2 linked regions of the Homo sapiens genome follow. The protein of the gene in region 1 interacts with the protein of each later gene in a pairwise test. Each region holds a gene or a part of one and is shown in the gene's direction. Other genes may lie near its edges. The genes, in order: FAM200A and RGL3.

Region 1 (3,620 bases):
TATTGCAGTGTACTAAAAGCAAACAAACAAATGAGGGTGTTTTGTCAATCGCATGTGTTGTGGAAATCTCATTCTCCCTCCAGAATAATTCATGGATCTATGTAACATGAACATGTTTCAATATTCATAATACTGAATAATTATGCAGCTTAATTTCTTATTTTTAAGAAATACAAGTTCTCATTTTTTTCCCTATGCCCCAGTGGATCATCTTGTGTACCCTATGTACCCTACCTGATGGTTTTTTTTGTTTTTTGTTTTTTGTTTTTTTTTTTTGAGACAGCGTCTTGCTCAGTTGCCCAGGCGTGGTGGCACATGGCCTGTAATTCCAGCTACTTGGGAGGCAGAGGCAGGAGAATCACTTTAACCTGGGAAGTGGAGGTTGCAGTGAGCCGAGATCGTGCCCTTGCACTCCAGCCTGGGCAACAAGAGCGAAACTCCATCTCAAAAAAAAAAAAAAAAAAAAGAATGACCAGATCACTTTTTAGAGTTGGCAGTGTAGCAGCATATTTAGGACACTCGCTTCAGACTTGGATTTGAGTGCTGGTTCTATACTTACTGTGGGTTGTTAGACACATTTAATCTTTCTGAACTTTTATTTTTCATCTGTAATATAAGAATAGTAATTATGTGAACCTCATTAGGTTTCCCTGGGTATTAAATGAGTGGTGTATATAGTACACCAAATCTCCCTGACACACAGCCAACATGAATGACAGTTGCTCATCATTTACCATGTCACACCACTAGATTTAGTGAATTGTTTTGTATGAGTTGTTAGCCCAGCAATACCATGTTGCTTTTTAATACTGCTGTTACGTTTTTCTACCCTGCAGGATAGCAAAACCTGATCTCATAAAACCTAGGTCACAAAGGACAGCCCTGCAAAACAGACCCTATTTGGATCAAGTGAGCCAGTTCCTGGAACCTGAATAATGACTCCTGAATCAAGGGATACTACAGATTTGTCTCCAGGGGGTACCCAGGAGATGGAAGGCATCGTGATAGTGAAGGTGGAGGAGGAAGATGAAGAAGACCATTTTCAAAAGGAAAGAAACAAAGTAGAGTCATCGCCACAAGTTCTCAGTCGCTCTACAACTATGAATGAGAGAGCCTTATTGTCATCGTATTTAGTTGCATATAGAGTGGCAAAAGAGAAAATGGCTCACACAGCGGCTGAAAAAATTATCCTTCCAGCATGTATGGACATGGTACGGACAATTTTTGATGACAAATCAGCTGATAAACTAAGAACTATACCTCTTAGTGATAATACAATATCTCGTCGAATCTGTACGATTGCAAAACATTTGGAAGCAATGCTTATTACACGGCTGCAGTCCGGTATAGACTTTGCAATCCAACTCGATGAGAGCACTGATATTGCAAGTTGTCCCACACTCTTGGTTTATGTCAGATATGTGTGGCAAGATGATTTTGTAGAGGATCTCTTATGTTGTTTAAATTTAAATTCACATATAACTGGATTAGATTTATTTACTGAATTAGAAAACTGCCTTCTTGGTCAGTATAAATTAAACTGGAAACATTGTAAAGGAATTTCAAGTGATGGAACAGCAAATATGACCGGAAAACACAGCAGACTTACTGAAAAATTGTTAGAAGCAACCCACAACAATGCTGTTTGGAATCACTGTTTTATTCATCGAGAAGCTTTGGTATCCAAAGAAATTTCACCAAGTCTGATGGATGTATTGAAAAATGCAGTGAAAACTGTTAATTTTATTAAAGGAAGCTCACTGAATAGCCGACTTCTCGAAATATTTTGTTCAGAGATTGGAGTGAACCACACCCACTTATTGTTTCATACAGAAGTTCGTTGGCTTTCTCAAGGAAAAGTATTGAGCAGAGTATATGAACTCAGGAACGAGATTTACATTTTTCTCGTTGAAAAGCAATCTCATTTGGCAAATATTTTTGAAGACGACATTTGGGTAACAAAATTGGCATATTTAAGTGATATTTTTGGCATTCTTAATGAATTAAGCCTGAAAATGCAGGGGAAAAACAATGATATATTTCAGTATCTTGAACATATTCTAGGATTCCAAAAGACGTTATTATTGTGGCAAGCAAGACTTAAAAGTAACCGCCCTAGCTACTATATGTTTCCAACATTATTGCAACACATCGAAGAGAACATTATTAATGAAGACTGCTTAAAAGAAATAAAATTAGAGATATTGTTGCATCTCACTTCTTTGTCTCAAACTTTTAATTATTACTTTCCGGAAGAGAAATTTGAATCATTAAAGGAAAATATTTGGATGAAAGATCCATTTGCTTTTCAAAACCCAGAATCAATAATTGAGTTAAACTTGGAGCCTGAAGAAGAGAATGAATTATTGCAGCTCAGTTCATCATTCACACTAAAGAATTATTATAAGATATTAAGTTTATCAGCATTTTGGATTAAGATTAAAGATGACTTTCCACTGCTAAGTAGGAAGAGTATATTGCTGTTACTACCATTCACAACTACATATTTGTGTGAACTAGGATTTTCAATCTTGACACGGTTAAAAACAAAGAAGAGAAATAGGCTCAATAGTGCACCAGATATGCGGGTAGCATTATCTTCATGTGTTCCTGACTGGAAGGAACTTATGAACAGACAAGCACACCCATCACATTAAATACAAACTTTACAAAATTCTGTGTATAGCCAGGTGTGGTGGCTTACGCCTGTAATCCCAGCAGTGGGAGACCGAGGTGGGCAGATCACTTGAGTTCAAGACCAGCCTGGCCAACATGGTGAAACCCCATCTCTACTAAAAATAGAAACCTTAGCCAGGCGTGGTGGCACATGCCTGCAGTCCCAGTTACTTGGGTGCCTGAGGCAGGAGAATCTCTTAAACCAGGAAGGCAGAGATTGCAGTGAGCTGAGATAATCCCACTGCATTCCAGCCTGGGCAACAGCGTGAGACTTCATCTCAAAAAAAAAAAATTGTATTTGTACTTTTAAAGGGATTTTGCAGTATGTTGTAGTTAAACGTTAATAAAATTATATTTGTAATTAGGATTTTATTTTTCTACATAGTATGTTTCATGAAACTCATTTCAGTTACATGAATGTGTGTATGTGTACAAGGTTATTATATAAAATATATGTCCTGTGAATTATTGTCAAGAATTTTGAAAACTAAGAGGCCAGCACAGTGGCTCACACCTGTAATCCCAGCACTTCGGGAGGCCAAGGTGGGTGGATTGCTTGTGCCCAGGAGTTTTGAGACCAGCCTGGGCAACACATTGAAATCCCGTCTCTACAAAAAATACAAAAATTTGGCCAGGCTTGGTGGTGTGCACCTGTAGTACCAGCTACTTGGGAGGCTGAGGTGGGAGGATCACTTGAGCCCAGTAGGTCGAGGCTACAGTGAGCTGTGATCGTGCAACTGCACTCTAGTCTGAGCAACAGAGCAAGACCCTGTCTTGAAAAAAAAATTTTTTTTAAATACTGCTTTTTTTTTTTTTTTTTTTTTTGAAGACAGAGTTTCACTCTTACTGCCCAAGCTGGAGTGCAGCGGCACAATCTTGGTTCACTGCAACCTCCGCCTCTGGGGTTCAAGCAATTCTTCTGCCTCAGCCTCCCAAGTAGCTGG
Region 2 (7,305 bases), on another chromosome or scaffold:
ACCATCCTGGCCAATATGGCGAAACCCTGTCTCTACTAAAAATACAACAACAACAAAAAAAGGTAGCTGGGTGTGGTGGCGCATGCCTGTAGTCCCAGCTACTCGGGAGGCTGAGGTTGCAGTGAGTCAAGATCAGGCCATTGCACTGCAGCCTTGGTGACACAGTAAGACTCTATCTCAAAAAAAAAAAAAAAAAAAAGGTACCAGGAGTCATATTCTATGTCCCCCACTCTGGACCCAGCTCTGAGACCCTGCCTCTCTGGCCAGGGCTGTGGTGTCAGTGCTGGGCTCCTGGCTGCAGGACCACCCTCAGGATTTCCGAGACCACCCTGCCCATTCGGACCTGGGCAGTGTCCGAACCTTTCTGGGCTGGGCGGCCCCAGGGAGTGCTGAGGCTCAAAAAGCAGAGAAGCTTCTGGAAGATTTTTTGGAGGAGGCTGAGCGAGAGCAGGAAGAGGAGCCGCCTCAGGTGTGGACAGGTGAGGGGTTTTCAGATCCAGTCGTGTTCTGAGAAGGCCTTTCCTGTCTGCTTCTTCCCACACAGGCTTTCTCTCCCCTCTCAGAGCTACAAAACTTAAGCAAGATTTTAAACTCTAAGCCTCAATTTCTTCATCTTTACAATGGGGATAATAATTCTTTGTCAGCCGGGCGTGGTGGCTCACGCCTGTATCCCAGCAGTTTGGGAGGCCAAGGATGGTGTATCACCTGAGGTCAGGAGTTTGAGACCAGTCTGACAAACATGGAGAAACCCCATCCCTACTAAAAATACAAAATTAGCCGGGCGTGGTGGGGCATGTCTATAATCCCAGCTATTCGGGAGGCTGAGGCAGGAGAATCGTTTGAACCCGGGAGGCGGAGGTTGCGGTGAGTCGAGATCGTGCCATTGCACTCTCGCCTGGACAACCAGAGCGAAACTCCGTCTAAAAAAAAAAACAAATTCTTTGTCTGAAGTATTAGCATGTGTCTAATACTTTTCCCTCCTTGGTGCCGTTGGGTCAGGATGCTCTGTGTTTCTAGCTACAAACCATTGCCTTGATACTTGTCTTTATTTTCTTTTTTTTGAGTCAGGGTCTTGCTCCGTTGCTCAGGCTGGAGTGCAGTGTCTCCATCATGGCTCAGTGCAGGCTCAACATCCTGGACTCAGGTGATCCTCCCGCCTGGGTCTCCAAAACTGCTGGCATTACAGGCGCGAGCCACTATACCTAGCCTGTAAAATTTTTCTTATTTTTGAATTTCTTTTTAAATTTAATTTAATTTAATTTTATTTTTTTATCTATTTTTTTTTTTAGACAGAGTCTCGCACTGTTACCCAGGCTGGAGTGCAGTGGCACAATCTTGGCTCACTGCAACCTCCACCTCCTGGGCTCAAGCCATTCTCCTGTCTCAGCCTCCTGAGTAGCTGGGACCACAGGCGCATGTCACCACGCCCGGCTAATTTTTTTGTAAAGGTGAGGTTGTGCCATGTTGCCCAGGCTGGTCTCAAACTCCTGAACTCAAGTGATCTGCCTGCCTTGGCCTCCCAAAATGCTGGGATTACAGCCATAAGCCATTGTGCATGCGTAGCCTCCTTACTTGATTATTGGCTTTTGCTCATCTCATAGGCTGTGAGTGCATGAGAGGAGGACCTGTTGTTCTTGCTCCCAGCTCTGTCCCCAGGGGCAGGAACAACACAGATTAGTTTGCTGAATAATTGCATCCTGCTTAGGAAGTATCATCTTTCACCCATCTGTATTTGATCTGATCCACATCACAAAAGCATCTCTATCCCTAATCCCCATCGCTTAATCTCCAGATTATAGTGGCCACCTTCCTGTCCAATTTACAAAGTAGCAGCCACTTCTCTATCCCTGGTGACAAAGTCTCAGTTATTTATATATATATAAAGGTATATATATATATATATATATATATATATATATATATATGAAGGTGTATATATATATATATATATGAAGGTATATATATATATGTATATATATGAAGGTATATATATATAAAGGTATATATATATAAAGGTATATATATAAAGGTATATATATATATAAAGGTATATATAAAGGTATATATATATAAAGGTATATATATATATATGAAGGTATATATATATATGTATATATATGAAGGTATATATATATAAAGGTATATATATATAAAGGTATATATATAAAGGTATATATATATATAAAGGTATATATATATAAAGGTATATATATATATAAAGGTATATATATATAGGTGTATATATATATATATATATATATATATATATATATATATATATGATTTCTCCAGCTGATTCCAAGTCATTAGAGCTCCATAGTTCACTGTGGTATCCACTAGCCCCTGTCGCTATTTAAATTAATTAAAATTGGCTGGGCGCGGCGGCTCATGCCTATAATCCCAGCACTTTGGGAGGCCGACGGGGGCGGATCCCAAGGTTCGGAGATCGAGACCATCCTGGCTAACATGGTGAAACCCCGTCTCTACTAAAAATACAAAAAAATATTAGCCGGGCGTGGTGGCGAGCGCCTGTAGTCCCAGCTACTCGGGAGGCTGAGGCAGGAGAATGGCGCGAACCTGGGAGGCGGAGCTTGCAGTGAGCTGAGATCAAGCCACTGAACTCCAGCCTGGGTGACAGAGCGAGACTCTGCCTAAAAAAAAAAAACCAAAAAACAAAATTATAATAATAATTAATTAATTAATTAAAATTAAATAAAATTCAGGTCTTTTCTTTTTAGAGATGGGGTCTTGCCATGTTGCCCAGGCTGGTCTCGAACTCCTGGGCTTAAGCAATCCTCCAGCATCAACCTCTCAGAGTGCTGGGATTGTAAGTGTGAGCTACTGTGCCTGACCCTGCCCTTTTTTTTTTTTTTTTTTTTTTGAGACGGAGCCTCGCTCTGTCACCCAGGCTGGAGTGCAGTGGCGCCATCTCGGCACACTGCAACCTCCTCCTCCCAGGTTCAAAAGATTCTCCTGCCTTAGCCTCCCAAGTAGCTGGGATTATAGGCACCTGCCACCACACCCAGCTAATTTTGTATTTTTATTAGAGACAGCGTTTCACTATGTTGGTCAGTCTGGTCTTGAACTCCTGACCTCAGGTGATCCACCCACCTCGGTCTCCCAAAGTGCTGGGATTACAGGCGTGAGCTACCATGCCTGGCCCGCTTTTTTTTTTTTTTTTTTTCTTTTTCAAAATCCAGTCAAGCAAAGGCAAAAATTCAGGTCTTCAATCCCACTACCCACATTTTGAGTGCTCAGCCACCACACTGGACATAGCAGATAGATAATTTTTCCACCATTGCAGAGAATTATATGGAAAGTGCTGCCCTAGTTTCTTTGAGGTCAGAGGAGAAAATTAACATTTGTTTAAGACCTTCTATGTGCTAGGCCCTGGGACACACTTTATTTCATTTTATTTTATTTTATTTATTTTTACTTTTATTTTATTTTGAGACAGAGTCTCGCTCTGTCGCCTAGGCTGGAGTGCAATGGCGCGATCTTGGCTTACTGCAACCTCCACCTCCTGGGTTCAAGTGATTCTCCTGCCTCAGCCTCCTGAGTAGCTGGTACTACAGGCGCCCGCCACCAGGCCCAGCTAATTTTTTGTAGTTTTAGTAGAGACGGGGTTTCACCGTGCTAGCCAAGATGGTCTCGATCTCCTGATCTCGTGATCCGCTTGCCTCGGTCTCCCAAAGTGCTGGGATTACAGGCGTGAGCCACCGCACCCGACTATGAATTTTATTTTTAGATACAGGGTCTTGCTCTGTTGCCCAGGCTGGACTCGAACTCCTGGGCTCAAGTGAGCCTCCTACCTCAGCCTCCTGAGTAGCTAAGACTACACTTGCACCATGTAGTTTAGAAGAAAGTAGATGACCACCATGCTCATCTATTTTATTTTAACAACTTTATTTTGGGTTCACTTTTTGCTATGGAAAATTTCAGACATATACAAAAGTAGAGAGAATAGTATGAAGAACATTCAGACATCCATCACCTATCATCAACGATGATCAATTTCACAAAAAAATATTTTCAGGATGATTTTAAAACAAATCCCGGGCTTATGTCAATTCATACATAAATGTTTTGGGTACACATGTCTGACAACAGGCTTACTTTTTTTTTTTTTTTTTTTGAGACGGAGTTTCGCTCTTGTTGCCCAGGCTGGAGTGCAATGGCAGGATCTCAGCTCACCTCAACCTCTGCCTCCTGGGTTCAAGTGATTCTCCTGCCTCAGCCTCCCGAGTAGCTGGGATTACAGGCGTGCACCACCACACCCGGCTAATTTTCTATTTTTAGTAGAGAGGGGGGTTTCTCCATGTTTGTCAGGCTGGTCTCGAACTCCTGACCTCAGGTGATCCGCCCACCTTGGCCTCCCAAAGTGTTGGTATTACAGGCGTGAGCCATGGCGCCCGGCCCTTTTATTTTTATTTTTTAATAACCTTCATGTTCATACTTAAAAAAAAATCAGAAATATTTGATATAAAAAAAATCCAATCCAGGCCAGATGCAGAGGCTCCTGCTGGCGATCCCAGCATTTTGGGAGGCCAAGGCAGGTGGATGGCTTGAGCCCAGGAGATTGAGACTAGCCTGGGCAACATGTTGAAACTTTGTGTCTACAAATAATTAGCTGGGCATGGTGGTGACTGCCTATAGTCCCAGCTGCTTGGGAGGCTGAGGCAAGAGGATCATTTTAGCCTGGGATGGTCAAGGCTGCAGTGAGCCGTGATTATGCCACTGTACTCCAGCCTAGGTGACAGAGCGAGACCCTGCCTCAAAAACAGAAAAAATACCCAGTCTATATTCAAATATTCAAATCCCCTGTTTGTGCCTGAACCTTTTTTTGGACACTGGGTTTTCCTATTTTGCCTGGGCTGGGCTTGAACTCCTGACCCTCCCACCTCAGCCTCCTGAGTAGCTGGGACCACAGGTGCCCACCATGGCACCCAGCCCTAAATTTTCTTTTGACAGTTGTTTCTGGCCAGGTGTTGTGGCACATGCCTATAGTCCCAGCTACTTAGGATGCTGAGATGGGAGGATCTCTTGACTCCGGGAAATCAAAGCTGCCGTGAGCTGTGAGCATGCCCCTGCACTCCAGGCGATAGAGCTGGGGGAAGGAGGAATAGTTGTTTCTTCAAATTGAAATCCAAAGATCTACTCAAGGTATTTGGTTGTTTGCTTCTCTTTTTTTTTTTTTTTTTTTTTTTGAGATGGAGTCTCACTCTGTTGTCCAGGCTGGAGGGTAGTGGCGTGATCTTGGCTCACTGCAACCTCCGCCTCCTGGGTTCAAGCGATTCTCCTGGCTCAGCCTCCTGAGTAGCTGAGTTTACAGGTGCCCACCAACACGCCCAGCTAATTTTTGTATTTTTAGTAGTGAGGGGGTTTCACCATGTTGGCCAGGCTGGTCTTGAACTCCTAACCTTTAGTGATCTGCCCACATCGGCCTCCCGAAGTGTCGGGATTACAGACATGAGTCACCACGCCCTACCGGTCGTTTGTTCCTAAGTCTCTTTTATTCTGTAACAGATCCCCCTTGCCTCTTGTTTGAAGCCATTAGAGGGCAAAAAAAATGGGTCATTTTTCCTGAGGTATGTCTCACATTCTTTTCGACTTACCTCATGGTTTCATGCAGCATGTTTCTCTATCCCCATAATTGCTGTAAGATTTAAAGGTTTGATTAGATGTAGGGCATTTTTTTTTCCAGGGCCCACTTTTTTTTGGGGTGGGGGGAGGAGAGACAGTTTCTTGCTCTGTCACCCAGGCTGGAGTGCTATGGCATGATCACAGCTCACTGCAGCCTTGACCTCCTGGGCTCAAGAGATCCTCCCTCCTAAGCCTCTTGAGTAGGTGGGACAGCAGGTGTGCATCAGGATGCGCAACTTTAAAAATTTTTTTATGTAGACATGGGGTCTCACTACGCCGCCCAGGCTGGTCTCAAACTCCTGGTCTCAAGCAATCCTCCTACCTCAACCTCCAAAAGTGCTGGGACTATAGGTGTGCCCAGCCCAGTACCCACTTCTAAAAACTAATATTTTGCAATGCCACCTGTCCTAATTCAAGATGAAAGAGGTAATTACACAGATTTACAAAGATTATTTTAAAATAATAGTATTGGGGCAGGGTGCTATGGCTCATGCCTGTAATCCCAGCACGTTGGGAAGCCGAGGCAGGAGGATCACCTGAGGTCAGGAGTTCGAGACCAGTCCGGCCAACATGGTGAAACCCCATCTCTACTAAAAAAAATAAAAAATAAAATAAAATAAAATAAAAAATAAATAAATAATAAAAAAATATATATATATTTAAATTAGCTGGCTGGGCATAGTGGCACCTCCTGTAGTCCCAGTTGCTCAGGAGGCTGAGGCAGGAGAATTGCTTGAACCCTGGAGGCAGAGGTTGCAGTGAGCCGAGATCGAGCCACTGCACTCCAGCCTGGGCGACAGAGCAAGACTCCATCACAAAATAAAAAAATAAAATAAAATAATAGTATGATGCCATAACTAGTACAAAGGAGAAGGAAAGTGAGAGTAACTTACACAGCAATAAACCATGTTTTCAATGGGTAATGCTTGGGTATGCCCCACTAGGACACATGATGAGGTTGTCCCGTGTCTTTGCCTGTCCTAGCGTCACAGTAGAGTGTCACGGTGCTGTTGTACTGACAGCAACAAGCACCAACGAACGCACAGGAGGGCACTGGTGAGGCAAAGACAGCAACATAGGTTCTGGGGACATCATTTTCCAAACTTGTGAACAACATTTGCAATTTGCAAACAAAACAAAGCCCAGACTTTCGTGGTCCTTGCATTCTTGGAGCCAAAAAAATTTGTGTTTATGAACAAAATAGTCAGGTTCTAGGTGCATATTATTGCAAACATGTTTTTCTTTTCTTTTTGTTTTTGTTTGTTTGTTTGTTTTGTTTTGTTTTGTTTTTTGAGATGGAGTCTCGCTCTGTCGCCCAGGCTGGAGTGCAGTGGCATGATCTCGGCTTACTGCAAGCTCCGCCTCGCCGGTTCACGCCATTCTCCTGCCTCAGCCTCCTGGGTAGCTGGGACTACAGGCGCCCGCCACCACGCCTGGCTAATTTTTTCTATTTTTTAGTAGAGACGGGGTTTCACCATGTTAGCCAGGATGGTCTCGATCTCCTGACCTCGTGATCTACCCGCCTTGGCCTCCCAAAGTGCTGGGATTACAGGCGTGAGCCACTGCCCCCGGCCTTCTTTTCTTTTCTTTTTTTTTTTTTTTTGAGACAAAGTCTCTGTCACCCAGGCTAGAGTGCCGTGGCGTGGACCTGGCTCACTGCAA

Evidence for each region.
Region 2: the proteins of FAM200A (region 1) and RGL3 interact in binary tests that used the Homo sapiens proteins (3 or more experiments, as listed by UniProt).

The regions. Positions count from the first base shown.
Region 1 is NC_000007.14:99,545,723-99,549,342, reverse strand, and holds the end of FAM200A (protein FAM200A), read left to right. Parts: intron 1-836; 5' UTR 837-935; coding exon 936-2,657; 3' UTR 2,658-3,043; downstream 3,044-3,620.
Region 2 is NC_000019.10:11,409,111-11,416,415, reverse strand, and holds part of RGL3 (ral guanine nucleotide dissociation stimulator-like 3), read left to right. Parts: intron 1-267; coding exon 268-479; intron 480-7,305.